Linked DNA regions of Homo sapiens: region 2 is linked to region 1. The links come from fine-mapping of genetic effects on gene expression. Tissue or cell type: whole blood. Region 1 holds a variant in brackets; the other region holds the start of a gene. All regions are shown on one strand. Distances are from middle to middle.

The links. PIP is the estimated chance that this variant, and not a neighbour inherited with it, causes the effect.
Region 2: it holds the start of NDE1, and the variant in region 1 is fine-mapped to the expression of NDE1 in whole blood (INTERVAL, PIP above 0.99).

Annotation. Positions count from the first base shown.
Region 1 is chr16:15,723,079-15,728,226 of GRCh38, reverse strand. It overlaps NDE1 (nudE neurodevelopment protein 1), which reads right to left. Exons shown (of 9, transcript NM_017668.3): 9 at 1,874-4,036. The coding sequence ends at 3,976. MYH11 (myosin heavy chain 11) reads left to right here. Exons shown (of 41, transcript NM_002474.3): 28 at 1,173-1,379; 29 at 3,235-3,339; 30 at 3,428-3,580; 31 at 3,818-4,066. Among named protein-coding and RNA genes, the nearest start is that of NDE1, 75 kb to the right of the region's middle. The variant G/T (reference allele first, on the strand shown) is at 3,077.
Region 2 is chr16:15,648,165-15,653,312 of GRCh38, reverse strand. It overlaps NDE1 (nudE neurodevelopment protein 1), which reads right to left and starts at 3,068. Exons shown (of 9, transcript NM_017668.3): 1 at 3,019-3,068. RefSeq lists a silencer at 1 and enhancers at 2,366-2,865, 2,866-3,367.

The sequences.
Region 1 (5,148 bases):
GATGGAGTCTCACTCTGTTACCCAGGCTGGAATGCAGTGGCATGATCTTGGTTCACTGCAACCTCCACCTCCCAGGTTCAAGCAATACTTGTGCCTTAGCCACCCCAGTAGCTGGGACTACAGGCGTGCGCCACCATGCCCGGCTAATTTTTCCATTTTTAGTAGAGATGCAGTTTCGCCATGTTGGCCAGGCTGGTCTCGAACTCCTCACCTCAAGTGATCCACCTGCCTTGGCCTCCCAAAGCTACTTATTTCTGAAACAGGGTCTCACTTTGTTGCCCAGGCTGGAGTGCAGTGGTGTGATCATAGCTCACTGCAGCCTCCAATTCCTGGGCTCAAGCAAGCCTGCCATCCGCCTCCTGAGTAGCTGGGATTGCTGGTGTGTGCCCCCCACACCCAGCTAATGTTTTATTTTAGTAGAGATGGGGGTCTCACTACATTGCCCAGGCTGGTCTTGTACTCCTGGCCTTAAGCGATCCTTCTGCCTGCTTCCCAAAGTGCTGGGGATGACAAGTATGAGCTGCCATGGCATGCCTTCAAACATTAAAGTTTTTTGAAAAAGAAGCTGGGAATCCAGATTTTTATGTGACATTTATTAAAATGTCGGCAACTCATTTTTTTAAAAGTAGTGAAAGGGTCAAAGGGGACATGTCAGCAGGTTGGATACCGCTTGTGGGATTCCAGATTGCAACCCATGAGCTTTAGGAAAATAGAATCCAAAATATCAGCTGGGTGCGGCAGCTCACGCCTGTAATCCCAGCACTTAGGGAGGCCAAGATGGGTGGATCACTTGAGGTCAGGAGTTCGAGAGCAGCCTGGCTAACATGGTGAAACCTCGTCTCTACTAAAAATACAAAAATTAGTCGGGCATGGTGGCGGGCGCCTGTAATCCCAGCTACTTGGGCAGCTGAGGCAGGAGAATAGTTTGAACCTGGGAGGCGGAGGTTGCAGTGAGCCAAGATTGTGCCACGGCACTCCAGCCTGGGTAACAGAGTTAAGACTCCATCTCAAAAAAAAAATAACAACAAAAAAACCCCAAATCTCTTACTGGTGATTGTGTGCCCCCTGTTGTGTGCCTTCCTGGACCTCTCTGAGGGAGGAAAGGGCAGGGCCTGAAACGTTCTCCCGGCCACAGCCTCCCTGTTATCCCTCCCCTCTGCTTCCTTCGCCAGGCCAAGGCGAACCTAGACAAGAATAAGCAGACGCTGGAGAAAGAGAACGCAGACCTGGCCGGGGAGCTGCGGGTCCTGGGCCAGGCCAAGCAGGAGGTGGAACATAAGAAGAAGAAGCTGGAGGCGCAGGTGCAGGAGCTGCAGTCCAAGTGCAGCGATGGGGAGCGGGCCCGGGCGGAGCTCAATGACAAAGTCCACAAGCTGCAGGTGAGGAGGTGGCGCGGTGGTGTGGTGGGCAGTGCTGGGTGGTGCCCAGTTCTGTGGGGAGGAGCCTCTTCCCGGCTCGCTGAGGTCTCTCTTGCTGCAAGGCAAGTCCTTTCCTCTAGTTGCGTTCCTGGAGGAGAGGCGATGATCTCCCTGTTCAATTAAATATTAAAAAAACCTTCTGGCCAGGCACGGTGGCTCATGCCTGTAATCCCAGCACTTTGGGAGACAGAGGTGGGTGGATCACCTGAGGTCAGGGGTTTGAGACCAGTCTGGCCAACATGGTGAAAAGTCTCTACTAAAAATACAAAAATTAGCCAGGCGTGGTCGTGGGCACCTGTAGTCCCATCTACTCGGGAGGCTGAGGCAGGAGAATAGCTTGAACCCAGGAGGCAGAGGTTGCAGTGTGCGGAGACCGCACCATTGTACTCCAGCCTGGGCTAAAAGGGCAAAACTCTGTCTCAGGAAAAAAAAAAAAAAAGAAAAAAAACCCTTCCTTTTCCAATTTGATAAGTATTTATTGAGCACCTGCTGTATGCCAGGCACTGTGCTTAATCCTGAGATCCAACAGCAAGGAAGAAGAGACACTGTCGCTGCCCCAGTAGGACTCCAGCCGAGTAAGGGGAAGGGAAGGGAAGGGAAAGACATGAATAATCACACAAATGAATGTCAAATGATGCAGCAAAGGGAAGGCACATGATGCCCAAGTGTAAATAACCAGGGGGCCTAACCTGGGGGAGGAGGAGCCACGAAAGGCTTCCCTAAGGAGCATGGATAAGTCTACCAGGCAGAGGGAACAGCGTGTGCAAAGGCCCTGTGGTAAGTAGAAAAATTAGGAGAGAGACATACAGCCAGTAGAGCTGGAGTGCCCAGCTGGGGTTGGGGGTAGGGGGAGATAGTACAGAGTGGGGTTGGAGGGGGAGCTTGTACCCAGATGATGTAGGGCTTTTGAGAACCTATTACATGTATGTTGATCCTTACTCTGGGCAATGTGAAGCTGTTGAGGGGTTTTAAGCTGCTGAATGACATGGTCTTTTTGTCTTTGGTCTTCTTTCACTTGGCATAGCCATTTACCCTGCCTTGCCACTCATGGGGACGTGGCCAAAGTTTTCACAAATGTTTAACATGTCCACAGCCAGGGACCAAGGGGCGAGGGAAGAATTAAGTGAGATGTTTTTTTCTCACATGCAGTTGAGAGCAGGGCTTTTGCCGCCCTCATATAAGCAGTGTCAAGATCATTCATATCCTCCTTGTCAATGGAAGAGATGGAGGGGTAGGCTAACAGCCTCAAAGGGACTTATGCAGAGACACTAGGGAGTAAAAGCCAGAGAATACAGAGAGGACGTTTTTACCTTTAGGGCCTGCGTCTCTGGCTTTGGCCATCAGGGTCAAAGAGTAGGAGTGAGGAAGGAAGGGATGGGACAGCATCCCTGGGACGTTCAAGTACCATCCTGGTCTCCCTTCTCCAGCCTTAGAGAGTGGACCAGCCAGAGCACCTCGTCTGGACTCTCAGACCTGCTGCTTTGTCTCTACCAACCTTGGCAGGGATCTAGGATCCATTTAGTGGGATCAGGTCCCAGTCAATACCATTGGGGCTCAAATAAGTTCTTAGAACCACAGAGTCTAGGGCCAGGGTCCCAACTCATAGGTGACGGAGTTCCCTTCAAGCCACAGATTCTGTTTTTTTTGTGTGTGTGTGT[G/T]TTTTTTTTTTTTTTTATCAGAGTCCCATACCTCACGGGTATTTTCTCAATCAGTGAACACCTCAAGTACTAGCCCATGTGTTTTGAGTAAAAAGGGCTCCTTTCAACGAGGATCCCCTTCTAGAGGCTTTGACTAACCAGTCTCTTGGCACCCTTAGAATGAAGTTGAGAGCGTCACAGGGATGCTTAACGAGGCCGAGGGGAAGGCCATTAAGCTGGCCAAGGACGTGGCGTCCCTCAGTTCCCAGCTCCAGGACACCCAGGTGAGTGTCCTGCCACATCATCCAGGGGACCTGGGGGGTGGCCTTCCTCGGGGCAGGTCCCTGGGACCTCTTTGCATCCCTTTTGCAGGAGCTGCTTCAAGAAGAAACCCGGCAGAAGCTCAACGTGTCTACGAAGCTGCGCCAGCTGGAGGAGGAGCGGAACAGCCTGCAAGACCAGCTGGACGAGGAGATGGAGGCCAAGCAGAACCTGGAGCGCCACATCTCCACTCTCAACATCCAGGTGCCTGCCCCGTGTCCTTGCTTCCTTCATGGGTCCTCTCAACTTCTCTGCGCTGAGATCCCCCGCAGGCAGATCGCGGTGGAGTGTTGGTGCGATGGTGCTTGACCCCCCAGCTTCCCCTGCTATTGGGTTTCTCCAACGAGGAGACATGGTCTTCGCTTCTCAGAGTCTGTGGGGCCAGGGACAGGGGCCACTCATGGTCCCCCTCTCACCCTACCCTGGACGCTGTCCTTGTAGCTCTCCGACTCGAAGAAGAAGCTGCAGGACTTTGCCAGCACCGTGGAAGCTCTGGAAGAGGGGAAGAAGAGGTTCCAGAAGGAGATCGAGAACCTCACCCAGCAGTACGAGGAGAAGGCGGCCGCTTATGATAAACTGGAAAAGACCAAGAACAGGCTTCAGCAGGAGCTGGACGACCTGGTTGTTGATTTGGACAACCAGCGGCAACTCGTGTCCAACCTGGAAAAGAAGCAGAGGAAATTTGATCAGGTAGAGGGCGTGGGGTGTCCCCCACTCTGGCCATGGACGCTGGGTTGGGGAATCAGCTCTGCAGAGTATGACGCGTGGCTCTGGCCTGTGCCTGCATCCCCTCTCCACTCTGTGGGGAGCCATGGGAGGCTGTCTTATCTTGTCTTGGGCGACCATGGAGCATTAACGCTACCAGGTCACAGTAAGGATGGCAAAGAAGCCTTGATGACTGTGACTTTTCTGGGTACCAGCACCATGAGGGTCACCTGCACACATGGTGATGCCTTAGTTTCTAGCCTGAAGAAGGAATGAGGTGCTTATTTATTCACTAAATGTATTTACTGAATACCTATTGAGTAGTATTCCAAGTAATTCAGTTTCTATACTTTTAATACCACTCTTCCCTAAGATTTCATTCTGTAAAATTCCAAGTACACAGCAAAGTTGACAGAATTGTACGGTGAACACCTTTAAGGCCACCACCTGGATTCAGTCATTGACACTGTATTATATGAACTTTATCAGATACTTATTTTGAGACAGGATCTAGCTCTGTCACCCAGGCTGGAGTGCAGTGGTGTGATCTCAGCTCCCCGCAACCTCCACCACTGGGTTCAAGCGATTCTCCTGCTTCAGCCTTTCATGTAGCCGGGATTATAGGAGCACACCACTATGTCTGGCTAATTTTTGTATTTTTAGTAGAGATGGGGTTTTGCCATGTTGTCCAGGCTGGTCTCCAACTCCTGGCCTCACATGATCTGCCTGCCTTGGCCTCCCAAAGTGCTGGGATTATAGGTATGAGCCACTATGCCCGGCCCACATATTTATTTATAAAGACTAATTCTATCTATCATGCCTTATCTCTTGGGTACATTTCAGAGCAAATTACAGATGTCAGTACATTTCCCCTTCCACACCTCAACATTGCATATTAATTAGAGTTTATTTTTAAACACAATTTTGCTTCTTTTGGGGTAAAACTTACATGTGATGAGATTCACAAATCTTAATTGTACGATAAATGGAGACCCCTGTATGACCCAAACCCCTAAATACCAACTTTTAAGATACATTATTATTTAGTAAATATGATTTAGTTTACA
Region 2 (5,148 bases), 75 kb after region 1:
TACAAAAATACTTAGGCAGGCAAGGACCCATGTTCAAAGATGCACACCATCATTCACGAATGTGGAAAACTGGAAACCTCAATGTCAACAGAGGACTGAATGGAAAACGATGCAGTTGTTAAGAACTGTAAGTACTAATATGGAAGAAAGCTCAGGATATGTTAAAAATGGGTGCCCATTTTTGTTTATTTCCCTCTCTCTGTACACAGAATAGAAAAGGGTCTGGAGGATGCACCAGAATGGGGGTAAAGCAAGCCCTGTGGATTTGTACCTGACACCTTGCTTTAAGGTAAACTACATACACATATATACAGTAAGCATAGATCGCTTTAGAGATTTTAAAAAGCTTAGGCCAGGCGCGGTGGCTCTCTCCCACCCCGGCACGTTGGGAGGCTGAGGCGGAAGGATCGCTTGAACCCAGGAGTTCGAGACCAGCCTGGGCAACATAGTGAGACCCCAATCTCTACAAAAAATTTTAAAAATTAGCCAAGCATGGTGGCATGTGCTTTTAGTCCCAGCTACTTGGGAGGCTCAGGCAAGAGGATTGCTTGAGCCTGAGAGGTCGAGACTGCAGTGAGCTGTGATTGCATCACTGTGTTCCAGCTTGGGCGACAGAGTGAGATCCCGTCTCAAAAAACAAACAAACAAAAACTTGGACAAAAAGTAAAATAGCTATTGTTCCAGGATAATTTTATTCTACTGAACCAAGTGACAGGGAAAGAATTTTTCCTACTGTGGTTTTGCCTCCTCCAACCCTTTTCAAACATTTCTTGAATACCTACTAAGTGCTGGGCACTGCTGAAGGAGGCAGACAAAAAGCACCCACATCCATTGCACGAGGTGCACGTGTAGTACTAACTGCAGGCACAAACTTTCTGTACACAGGAATGCTCATGTTAGGAAATTACCTTGTGAGGAAAAGGAGTGTCAATTCTCGGCTCACATTCTAAGGCAAAAGAACACACTTTGGGCTGCATGCAGTGGCTCATGCCTGCAAGTAATCTCAGCACTGTGGGAGGCCAAGGCAGGAGGACTGCTTGAGCCCAGGAATTTGAGACCAGCCTGGGCAACAAAGCAAGATTCTGCCTCTACATAAAAAATAATAATAATGATAGAGTCGGGTGCAGTGGCTCATGCCTGTAATCCCAACACTTTGGGAGGCTGAGGTGGGCAGATCACGAGGTCAGAAGTTTGAGACCAGCCTGGCCAATATGGTGAAACCCCATCTCTACTAAGAATTAGCCGGGCATGGTGGCACGCACCTGTAATCCCAGCTACTCAGGAGGGTGAGGCAGAAGAATCACTTGAACCCGGAGGACTGAGGTTGCAGTGAGTCGAGATCATGCCACTGCACTCCAGCCTGGACAAGAACAAGACTCCGTCTCAAAATAAATAAATAAATAAATAATAAATAACACACTTTGGAAACAAAAATAAGTCAAGTTAATAAACTGTTATCCAACATGGGATAAAATATATGAATCACAGGCCCCTGAGACTTCAGCGGCACAGATCATCTGCATTTAATCCTACACAAAACACACACTAAGAGGAAAGGCTCAAAATGGGTTGTAGGCCGGCACGGTGGCTCACGCCTGTAATCCCAGCACTTTGGGAGGCCGAGGGGGCAGATCACGAGGTCAGGAAATCGAGACCATCCTGGCTAACACGGTGAAACCCCATCTCTACTAAAAATACAAAAAATTAGCCAGGCGTGGTGGCACGCACCTGTAGTCCCAGCTACTCCGGAGGCTGAGGCAGGAGAATCGCTTGAACCCGGGAAGCGGAGGTTGCAGTGAGCCAAAATCGCACCACTGCACTCCAACCTGGGCGAGAGTGAGACTCTGTCTCAAAAACAAAAACAAAAAAAAAAAAAAAAAAACGGGTTGTATACCAACGAGGTGATGGAGGCTGGGGTGGTCGGGTAACAAGAGGCTTTAGGAGTAGCTGGGATCTAATTAATCTTCAAAACACCCGACCCATGTCCTAAAATGCCATCCTATGCTAGAATACACTATAACAAAACTAAAAATGATGAACCTGCCTAGGTCGTGCTGCAAAGGCCTTTTCTTTAGAAAGTTAAAAGGGGCCTGAGGCTCAAAGTAGAAATTAAGAGGCACAACCTGGTAGTAACCACGGACAAAGCAATCAAGGAAGCTCAGGCCCTCAGGAGGCAGAAAGCCTGAGATGGCTCGGAGAAGATAAAGTCGCCTCCCCAAAAGCGGTGTCAAGGTGACAGCGGGGTTTCCCAGGACCTCAGAGACTCAGGTCCTCAGTGAGCCCAGCCATCACTCAAGCTGCGGAATAAGCATTTTCGTCCTTTACCCAATCCCTCCCCAAAGTGCTGTCAGAAGAAACCTGAACCGTCCTGCGGCAGAGACGGGAGCAAAGCGGAGAGCAGACTGCCCCAAACGTGTTCCCGGAGGGAGGGAGCAGGGTGGGTTTTTGGAAAGAGGCCTGCAGGGGCGGGACAGTGGGTGTGAGGGCAGGGGCAACGCTGCAATCGAGGGGTCTGGGGTCGCAGAGAAGCGGGTGGCAGGATGGAGGAATAGGAGAGAGAGAGAAAAGAAACGAGGGTCATCTAGGAGAGGAGTATGGGGAGGAAGGAAGAGGAGAAAGAGGATGGAGCCTGGCAGCGGGGTTTGGGGACCGGCAAGGCTTAACCACCCAGGAAGTCCCGGAAGGAGAAGAGGGCAACGGGGTGGGAGAGAGACCAACGCAGAAAGAGAAACAAAGTTGCCAAGGGCGAGGGGCCAGCGCGAGGAACGCACCGGTGGCAAGGCACTCAGTGCCTAACTTTTTAGGACGGGAGGCTCCAGGGAGGCGGGATTTTGGAGCCCAGGGACCGGGGGAGTCCAGGCGGCCGGGAAGCGACGCGCAAGCGAGGGGCGTAGGGGTCCCTGCCAGGCGGTGGCCCGGGGTCCCGGGATCCTGGGGCGGGGCAGAGGAGCTTTTCAGCCGCGGTGGAGGTCCCCGGACAGCCACCCCGACCCCAGCCCCGCGCAGCGCCTCACTTACCCGAGCAGGGGCGGCGAGGCCAACGCGGCGGCGGCGGCAGAGGCGGCTGCGAAGGGCGGTGCGGCCCCGGCCCTCCGGACCCCGCCCCCGCCCCGGAGCCTGCGGTCGGCGCCTCCCATTGGCTGCTGCTCTACGGTACCGCGTCCGCCTCGGCCAATCAGCGCAGAGCAGCGTCGTTTGGAAACTTTTTTCCCAGGCCGGGCGCGGCGCGGCCAAGCGGCGAAGGCTCCTGGCCGGAGGGGGTTTGAGAGGCGCCGGCTGCCGGGCGCTGGGCTGCGGCGGGCTGGCGGGCATTGGAGATGCTGCAGAACGCTGCCTGGACACCCGGGAAACGGGTTTGGGCTTGCGGGCCGCGCATTTCAGGAAAATACGCCGGCCTCTCCTTCACTTCGATTGCATTTTCCCATTCTTGCACTTTCTCCAAATCAGAAGGAAAGACAAAGATTCAGGCCCACTGAAGCTAGCAGTGCCCCGTGCCCTTCCTACTCCTTTACACCAAAAGTAGAATCTTCAGCATCATTATCTTCTCCAGAAGCAGGAGAACGTAGTGCACCAGAATTTGGTCATAAACTTGGCTTTGAGTCCTAGTCCTGCCCCTTACTAACTGTGTGGTCTTGGGAAAGTTGTTTAGCCTCTATGACTCCGTTTCCCCATCTATAAAACGCCATTATGGGTCTGGCGCGGTGGTCACGCCTGTAATCCCAGCACTTTGGGAGGCCAAGGCGGGTGGATCACGAGGTCAGGAGTTCAAGACCAGCCTGGCACATGGTGAAACCCCGTCTCTACTAAAGATACAAAAAATTAGCCGGATGTGGTGGCACGCACCTGTAATCCCAGCTACTCAGGAGGCTGAGGCAGGAGAATCACGGGAAACCGGGAGGTGGCGGTTGCAGTGAGCCGAGATCACACCACTGCACTCTAGCCTAGGCGACAGGGCAAGACTCCGTCTTAAAGAACAGACAAACAAACAAACGACATTATGCAGAGGACTAAATGACTTAACAGCATTTGTAAAAACGTTTAGAACAGAAATTTGAACTTAGTAAGTACAATATATGTATTTGTTAAATGATCTTGATTTTGTTTATTTATTTATTTTGAGATGAAATCTCCCTCTGTCTCCCAGGCTGGAATGCAGTGGCGTGATCTCCACTCACTGCAACCTCTGCCTTCTGAGTTCAAGCAATTCTCCTGCTTCAGCCTCCCGAGTAGCTGGGATCACAGGCCCGCATCACCACACCCGGCTAATTTTTATATTTTTAGTAGAGACGGGGTTTCACCATGTTGGCCAGGCTGCTCTCGAATCCCTGTCCTCAGGTGATCCACCCACCTCGGCCTCCCAAAGTCCTGGGATTACAGGCGTGAGCCACCACACACTGCCTGAAGATCGTGATTTTTAAATGGCTGTGTGTGCCAGGCACAATTCTCACAGCAACCCTAATTGTTCACTAACAAATTAAAATTAAAAAATAATTTTTTTCTTTTCGAGACAGAGTTTCCCTCTTGTTGCCCAGGCTGGCGTGCAATGGTGCGATCTCGGCTCACTGCAACCTCTGCCTCCCAGATTCAAGCGATTTTCTTGTCTTAGTCTCCCTAGTAGCTGGGATTACAGGCGCCCACCATTACGCCCAGCTAATTTTTTGTATTTTTAGTAGAGACACGGTTTCACTGTGTTGGCCAGGCTGGTCTCGAACTCCTGACCTCAAGCAATACACCTCAGTCTCCCAAAGTGCTGGGATTACAGGCGTGAGCCATGTAACTCAGAAGGCAGAGGTTGCGGTGAGTGGAGATCACGCCACTGCATTCCAGCCTGGGAGACAGAGGGAGACTTCATCTCAAAATAAATAAATAAATAAAATCAAGCCACCATGCTTGGCTGGAATTTCTTTTTTTCTTTATTTTCTTCTAAAACATCCTGTCATAACATGTTCATTAACAAATACCGAACATTCTGGTTAGTGGGTACAAAAATAGAGTTAGAATGAATAAGATCTAGTATTTGGGAGCACAGCAGGGTGACTACAGTCCACAACAATGTATTGTACATTTTAAAATAACTAAAGGAGTATAATTGGAGTGCTTGTAACACAAAGAAAGGATAAATGCTTGAGGTCATGGACACCCATTTAC